Linked DNA regions of Homo sapiens: all the other regions are linked to region 1. Evidence: fine-mapped QTL for protein levels in blood plasma. A gene starts in region 1. Each other region holds a variant in brackets. All regions are shown on one strand. Distances are between the middles of the regions.

Region 1 (2,761 bases):
CTGCAGTGAAGGAGGAAGCAAAAGGGCAAGTTCTGGTCTCCAGCTCAGACAACGGGTCCCTGGGGACTCAGAGCCTCTCTAATTCCCGGACCTCGGAATTAGATAGATAGTGGAGAACCACCAGGGACTGGAACTGCTAGGGGACTGCAGAGCCGTGGAATCCCCCCTGGCCCCTTCTTTATGCAGCCCGTTTGAAATGGTCTCTTGAGCCCAGTGCGCCTGGCCTGTTCCCGCTTAGCCTCACTTAAATCTCCTCGCGAATCTGAGCTGGCCAACTTCCTCTGGGGGAAACTGCTAAACTCAGCTCCAGTTAATATTGTAGGGCTGAGGATAAAATAGCAACGGTTTTGAATAGATGTTGACTTTTCCGACCCAGAGGAGCGGAACTCAGGGATTGTTTGCAAAAGCTAATCGTTTCCACAGTGAAGCAGGGAGAGCCTGGTGCGCTCACCGCCGCCAGCCCCTCCCTGGAAGCCAAGCTGCGGGAAGACTCTGGGACTCAGTTGCCCCTCCCCATCTCTGGCCTTTAAAAGAGTCCTCCCGAGAACTTGGACCAGTGGCCGCCAAACCAGGGCTGCTTCCCAGACTCCTGTCTCCAATCTTGGAGTCTGCGACCTCAGGTTCGGCGCCCACTAGATCTCGAATCCAACTTCTTTCTGAAATGTGTTTAGGTTGAGAGTTCCGGGGCCTGGGCGGGAGTTTGGTGGGGAGAGGGGAGTCTGCTATTTAAGGCGCCATACATACACAGAGACAGCCCGCCCGACCTCCTAACACTCAGGAAAAGTCAATTTCCAAGCATCTGTTCTCAATAATGGTGGCAGGGAGCAGGGCACTGTGACTCCCAGCATCTGAGGGAATACCCGCAGCAGCGCTACCAGAGCGCATTTGCTCTATGCGCTGGAGGTCGGGGTGGGAGGGTGCGCAGATCAAGATCTTTTTTTGCGAACCTCAGGGAAATGACCGTAGTTGGACTAAGAGGTCCACTTTGGAGACTACCAGCAGCCCTCCAAGCCCTGGCAGTGGAGAAGTTTCGTTGCTATGGTTTCGGAGAGGCATAAAAGCCATCACCCAGAAGCAAATGTGTTTGGGCTCCTTATATGTGTTGTCACCACCCAAGGCTAGGCAAATTCCTCGGCGCTTTGCATGCATCACTCACTCCCTGACAGAGCATCTTGGCCTTAGTCTCCCCATCCCAGGAGGCGGGTGTGCGCTAAGGGAGCGAAGTCCAGCCGGAGGCTTCGTAACATCCAAGTCTAGGGACACCAGGAATTCTCTCGCTCTAGCTCCTGTGGTCCAGGGGTGGGAGATGCCCCCGAGTGGCCGCGGCGGCCAGGAGCGTGCAGGGGCCACGGGGAAAGGAGCGCGGCGCCTTTAAAGCAAGAGGCGAGGAACCCCCGCCAGGAGGCGTGTCTGTCTCTGCCGCCGCCGCCGCCGCTGCTGCTCCTCGGTCACCGTCTTCGCCGCTGCCGTCACTCGCGCTCGGCGCCGGCGGCTGCGCTGGTCGGTCTGGTAGCTGGGGACTTTTCCGCCCGACCTCCTCCGGCTGCTCCTCCCCGAGGACCACCCCACCCCCTCCCCGCCCACCTCACCCCTAGCTCCAGGTAAGGACTCCCCGGCTGTGGGCTGCACTCCGGGCTCCTTCACGAGGTGTTTGTTTTCAAGAGGACGGGAGGGACTGCGGGTGGGCGAGGGGCATTTTCCACCTGGAGAGAAGGAAGAAGGCGAACAGTAGCGCTGCGGACGTCCGTGCGCTCGGGGCGCCCGCTGGACGGATTCACTGCGAGTCTTTGTCGGGCTTATCTCAGCCAATTCCCGTCAAGCATGCAAGTGGCTCTGTTGGCTGCAGTCGCCTATGTTCTCCACATAAAATGATTTAAGAAGTGGACGTGTCAGGAAGTGGCCTCAGCTACGGGGACTCACGCGAGGCGAAGAGAATGAGACAGATGGCAAGAAGCTGTGTGGCTGCCGGCGGGTCTGACGAACTCCCCATCCCTCCTTCTGCCCACCCATCCTTCCATTAACCCTACTCCTTAGTTCTGCGCTGAGGAAGTATATTTATTTTAACCGGCACCCGTATTAAGAGCTTCTGAAAAAACTTGGAGGGCGTCCCATTAGGGTAAGGAGTGGGCAGTGTTACCAGGGTGGATCATAAACCTCAAGAACTTTTAACGAACCACATCCTCTGATATTTTTACCTTTAAGGAGATAGAGTTTCTTTACCAAACAACACGACCGAGCTGAGGCTCCTTAGAGAATAATTTCCAATTTAGGCAATGGGGAATATTAGAAAACTTACTATTAGTAGCCTTTTGGTAATGCACAGATTATCTTCTATCGTTTATTCATCTCCATACTGTAAGTATTCTGTCATCAGAAATTATCTTATGGATTGATGATTATTTTCATTTCACGAGAGATGATTGGTTCATTTGAGTCTTAATTAGTCAGTTTAGTTACTGAAATAAATGCAATTGTATTTCAATCTTGATTTGTCTTAGTTCATTACTTTCTAACTTTATAGAGTCTATTCCTGTAACCACCAAGGCAGCCTATCAACTTCCAGTGGCCTTAAAAACTTTTGAGTCAAACAAACAACAAAAAATTGAAATGCACAAGAGCAAGGTGATAGAGAATTGAGCAATGTTTGGAAGTCTTATCTGTTTGTTTTCTCCTATTTAAACCCATTGAAAATCACACAGGCTGAAATTTAAAAAAAAAAGTTCTGGGATATGTAAATTTATTCCACTTCAATTTGTTAATT
Region 2 (2,761 bases), 890 kb before region 1:
TTTGCTGCAATCCAAGGATTTCTTCAATATTTCAGTTTCTCCAAAGGCCACTTGTAGGGTAATGTGTTTTTAGAGGAATGCATTTTTCTAAAGGCTCAGGAAATAAGATTGAGGTTTTACTAAGATGTCTGTATTATTCTGTTTCTGGTAACAACAGCCCTATATTAGAAGCCAGTAGCATATTTTTTCTCCTTATTTTTTGGATAGAATTAGGCTTCAGAAGTTGAATAAATACCGTAAAAATGGTTGCTTCTGAAAGAAAAATCAGATATTTGCTTTTAAAAGGGAAGGGTTTAGGTTTTTACTGAATATATTTAAATTGATTTTCATGCTTATACAAGCATGAGAGTAACACGACTGCCAGGAAGATTGGACGGAATGGGTATTGCTTGCAATATTAAGGAAAGTACATTAATGCTTTTAAAGAACATTACAGAATTTGCTTAAAATTTTTATTTCACTCTGGGTGCAACATACCTTATGATCAAAACACTCAGTGAGAGTGTGAGTTGCCTCCACTCTTGCTCTCAAAAGTTGTTCTGCTTCCAGAGTGATCCATTTCTGATTATTTGGATATAAAAAATGGCCCTTAACAAGATTCTAAAGTTTGTCCTCAGAACCCAGCTGGGAAGTAATAAAGCAGTCAGACTTCACCTGCACTGTCTGGATATCCTAGGTGCCCTTTACTGTCCCATCAATACATGTTCCCAAAAAGTGCTCTCAGAAGTAATTCACATTCCCATGTGAGTGCCAAGCTACACCTGAAAGTGTACACGTATTTTGCATTTTGACAGGTGGGAATCCTGTAGCAAAAAAGGAATGGAGCACAAATCTCTCTCTGGGCACAACAATTTTTCTGTTTGGGGTGGGAGTAGAGATGGTGAGGTGGGGCTCTTAGCTTACCACCCAGTTGACACATAAAATTAATCCTGAGGATAAGTTTGTTTGCTATTGATCATCTTAGACTTCCATTTACATTATAGTTACTCTTTATAGTTCTTTATCATTTTCTAAGCATTTTCACATAAATGATTCATTCAACAAAATTGATTGAACACCTGCTATGTTCTAGGTACTGTGTGTACAGCAATGACGTTCACTGCCCTTCTTATCATGACGGAGCCAATGACTCTGAGAGAAGCCTGGGCAGGTGTTACCTCTGTTTTTGGAGGTGAGGAAATGGGAACAGAAGAAAGTTGATCAGATACATTGTCCTAAATCTTACAAAATGTGGCCAGATCACCAAATATAGCACATAGTGAGGTAGCATTTCAGAACCTCATTAAAAAGCAAAAAACTAGCCAGGCATGGTGGCATGTGCCTGTTGTCCCAGCTACTCAGGAGTCTGAGGTGGGAGGATTGGTTGAGTGGGAGGTTGAGTCTGCAGTTAACTGTGACTGCACCACTGCGCTATTCCAGCCTGGGCAAACAGAGCAAGACTCTGTCTGGAAAAA[A/AAAAAAG]AAAAAGAAAAAGAAAAAGAAAAAGAAAAAAGCCAAAACCCTAAACTGCTTTTCTTGATACAGCAAACCTAGCTTAAAAACAAAACTTATTCCTTCCAGATCCCTGGTGAAATTGTGTTCTAATAGGCAAATATCATGTTTTCTGATAATAATTACCACCTAAAGTAACACAGGTAGAGATGCACATTCCTGGTAGACAGCCTGTAATTAGGCCACTTTTGTATGTACTTGAGCTTATTTGAAAGCTCATTTGAAGTTACTGGCATTCTTTGTTAAAATTACTATTAGACACTTCCATGCAATATCAGTTTCAGACATTTAAAGAAGTATGTAAGGATGGGCTTCGAGTGTGTCCAGGAGCCCAGTGGAAAGAGACAGCTATGTTGAGGCAGATTATGTTTGACAAATGAAGATCTCCATCGGTAGCTTGCTTGTTCATTATTTTAAAATTGTGTTGTGAAGATTTTGTATTTTTTTTTCTCTCACTTCAATCCAAACTTTCTCTTCTGTAATTTAAATGTACTTTTTTTTTTTTTAGTGGTCCACTCTGGTGACATTTTAAAAATAAGTAATAACCCATGCATGCAATTTGACTAAAAAGCAATTGCAAACCTAGAACTTACACATTCAAATAAATTGAGTCATTTTAGGTGAATAAACTTTTAGGTGAACTTTGGAGCATATGCACCAATCCTGGTGTGTTGACATAAAGAACATTTTTAGAACCTTCTGACTACAGTTAGTGTCATCAGAAGAAAAGCAGTTTTGTTTTTTATGGTAGTCAGTATTATTCAGTGTCATTAGCTGTCTAATTCTCAGAAATTATTTATTTCAGGATCTCCATTCATCCCTCAAAGGAATAACATTTGGCATCTTCTAGGCCTTTTGGAAAAATGAATTATCAGCTGCAGGTAGTTCCAAAACTAGCTAGAACAATCCTCTACATCCTGGAAAGTACAGTTCTCTGAGGCCAAGAGCCAGCCACACTTGGGATGGAAGCTCACACATGAAATTCATCTCAGATCAGCTCTGCAATCCTCAAATCATTACAAACTCCTTCCAATATAACTTGGAGCCAAAAAGTATGATCATTCAAAGTGACTGTACTTGTTTTCAATGGTCAGGAGTGGCACCTACATGGCTTAGCAAGTTCCAGTAACATCAAGGACACCCAAGTAATAAAAGTAACAAGTAAAGAAATGTGGATTTGGGGGATTCAAAGAACTTTTAATTAGAAGTTGTGATTCTGCTCAACCAACATGGTTTGATCTATAGTCCATCATGTTCTTCAGGAAGTCTCTATGGAA
Region 3 (2,761 bases), 510 kb before region 1:
GATGGAGAAAATGGCTGTCAATCTCACCTAACCTAGGGAAAGAAAGAAAATGTAACCATGAGTTTGAATGCACAAGTGACAACACATCAAACTTTTACCAGCCCCTAGAATTATGCTTCTTTTAAACCAAAGAATAGCAAATACCATTAGCACACTGCATTCCATGAGTAAGTTAATTTATAAGAAACCTATTTGAAATGACTGCCCAGTACTCACAAAACCTCCCTAGCACCCACATACACATTTATTTATTTCAAAATGACATTATAGGCTCCTTGATTGCGAAATTCACCCACAATCCATCACGGTCAGCTACCTATTTACTTTCCAGTGTGTTGGGGGAAAAATATGAGGAAGATTTCTTTCCCCAAATCTACGTGAAGAAAACGAAGTTATCAAGGCTTTGTAACAGAAAAAAAGAAAACAAATTACCCATGCATGGGACAGAAAAACCTCATCTGGTCACGTTGTGGCTTAACACTTGGACAATATGTAGCTTAGGTTAAGTTTTCTATCCCCAACCCCACCTACAAACTCTAGGAATGGGCGGTATTGTTGCGAGACCCCGGACTCGACCTCATGCCACTGAAAAGGATGACAGGTCGGGACTTGCCCCGGAGGCAGGAAGAGAATCTCTGGCGGGTCGCGTAGCCCGCCTCGCCGTCCCCGCCTCCAGCCAGCTCCCCTGGCCGCGGCGACCCTTCTCGTCCTCCCACCTCCACCTCCACCTCCTCACCTCTCGGCCTGGCTCACGCGTTTCCCATCACTCTGTCAGCTCCTGCCACCGCGCCTTCTTCCCTTTCGGTTTTACTTTAACTTCCCACGCCGGGTGAGGAGCTGAGCGCAGGGCCAAAGATGCGAGCGGGCAGCTGTATCGCCGCGCCCCGTCCGCCCTCCAAGCCGCGCTTGCCGGGGTCGCGCCCAGTCACAGGGAACCGCGTGTGAGGACCATCAGTCAGACAGACAGACGCAAAGACGCACAGACCCGGCGAGGAGGGACAGAGTGGAGCTGGCGCCGGCCTACACGTCACCGCCCCGCTGCAGCGCCAACGTCGGCACGTCGACTCGTCGACTCCGGGCCCTCTGCCCCGCCCGCGTGCGCGCGCCGCTCCGCCTCCCGCCTCCAGCCTCTAGTCCGCTGGGTTCGGAGGAGCAGAGGCGGAAGGTCCCGGCGGCGGCGAGGATGCGCCCCAGGGCGGGAGCGGGACGCTCCACTTTACCCTGGCTGCCCGCAACGGGCCAGGCCTGCCGTCTCTACCTCTCTACCTGTGAGTTTTTTCCCTGCATTTACTTCAGTCTGCCGCGTCTTCTCCCCGCCCTTCTCTGTAAGGTAAATATGTGGAGGAAATAATTCCTATTAAAGGTAAAGGAAAGGAGAGCAATTTGAATGAAGAAACAGGTAGTTGCTATCGTCGTTTTCAGCCAAAGCCCTCTGGCTGCTAGAGAGTATACATGGTTCTCTGGTGTCAAGGCCTGTTTTCCATAAGCTTTCTGGATTCTCAGCTTAGTTCCCTCAAAGTGATCTCTGCAAGTCGGCTCTT[C/T]GGTCAGAAGACCTCCTCCAAAAACAGAAAGCCCAAAGATTCCCTAACTCGATTGAAAAGATAGGAAGATACGAAGAAAAACTAACCTAAAGAATTGTGTGGTTTATCTGCAAAGAGTTCTAGACTAAAAGCCAACAATGCAAAGATAGTATGAGTTAATATGTTTGTTGTGGCTCTCTTCTGCCATTCCCGCTTCCTCAAGGTAATGTGCCCCGATGCCTGGTAGAACTGTTTTGTAGAGGCAGCCAATAGTGATCCAGTTATTGTCTTTACTGGTCAGACCACCTCTGAAGTGCTGTGTTCAGCATTTGAAGACTTTAATCAAGCTGGCATTATATCAGGGAAGAGCAAAATGATGACGAGAACTCAAAAACAGGGCAAGTGAAGAAGGATTGATTAAACCTTCCAGGACTCACCTAGAAGAGAGAAAACTACTGGACTCTCTCCAAATATGAAATGACCTATCATGTGAAGTTGATTTGTTTCATGTGATGCAAACTTCAGGGAACAGATTTAAGATCCTGAAAAGAAGATGCCCTTGTAGCACGACCCAAAGAATTGCCTACCTTAGCATGTGTGAATACCTCAACCACAGAATTTTGCTTCAAGGAGATTCTGAAGCTCACTTAATAGGGACTTGGTACAGGGGAGCCACACATCAACAGAATAATTAGTTGATGGTTTTGTTAAAGATATTTCCAGTCTTGAGATTACATGTGTCTTTGGTCCTGGACTTCATAGAGTTTACAAGTTAGTTCATGAGACAAGACAAATGCATCACAAAAATAAATAATGCAAGGAGGCCAAGTGATAATGAGAGGTGCTGATAAGTGCTAGGAATTCACATGACAGATTATTCCCATCACAGTTCCAGAGGCTTAAGGGAGAAGAGAGGAACTGAAAATAGACTACCTAGAACTGCCCTATCCATTGGGGTAGCCACCAGTTAAATACGTCTCTTGACATTTGAAATGTGGCTTGTCCAAACTGAGACATGCAATGAGTCCAAAATGTACACCAGATTTCAAAGACTTAGAAAACAAATGTAAAATATTGTAATTCTTATGTCGATTACATGTTGAAATAATATATAATGGATCAAATAAAATATGTTAAAATTAATTTCAACTTTATTTTTACTTTTTATGTGACTTCTAGAAAATTTTTAATTACATAGGTGGCTTGCATCATATTTGTATTACATAGTCCTGGCCTGGAAG

Alleles and levels. Positions count from the first base shown, and alleles are read on the strand shown. Strength reflects both the effect of a copy and how common the allele is.
In carriers of allele AAAAAAG in region 2, the plasma level of the protein whose gene starts at base 1,472 in region 1 tends to be higher than with A alone (moderate association).
In carriers of allele C in region 3, the plasma level of the protein whose gene starts at base 1,472 in region 1 tends to be lower than with T alone (strong association).

What was found. PIP is the chance, under the fine-mapping model, that this variant and not a neighbour inherited with it causes the effect. Protein levels are from antibody-based Olink assays in UK Biobank. Linkage for the fine-mapping came from a reference panel and not from the study's own genotypes, which makes the PIPs less certain.
Region 2: its variant is fine-mapped to the plasma level of the GRIK2 protein (UK Biobank, PIP above 0.99).
Region 3: its variant is fine-mapped to the plasma level of the GRIK2 protein (UK Biobank, PIP above 0.99).

What each region holds. Positions count from the first base shown.
Region 1 is chr6:101,392,237-101,394,997 of GRCh38, forward strand. GRIK2 (glutamate ionotropic receptor kainate type subunit 2) reads left to right here and starts at 1,472. Exons shown (of 17, transcript NM_021956.5): 1 at 1,472-1,601.
Region 2 is chr6:100,501,097-100,503,857 of GRCh38, forward strand. No RefSeq gene overlaps it. Among named protein-coding and RNA genes, the nearest start is that of SIM1, 38 kb to the left of the region's middle. The variant A/AAAAAAG (reference allele first, on the strand shown) is at 1,455.
Region 3 is chr6:100,880,325-100,883,085 of GRCh38, forward strand. ASCC3 (activating signal cointegrator 1 complex subunit 3) reads right to left here and starts at 1,005. Exons shown (of 42, transcript NM_006828.4): 1 at 737-1,005. LOC107984041 (a long non-coding RNA gene) reads left to right here and starts at 1,133. Exons shown (of 8, transcript XR_007059692.1): 1 at 1,133-1,330. RefSeq lists an enhancer at 849-968. The variant C/T (reference allele first, on the strand shown) is at 1,542.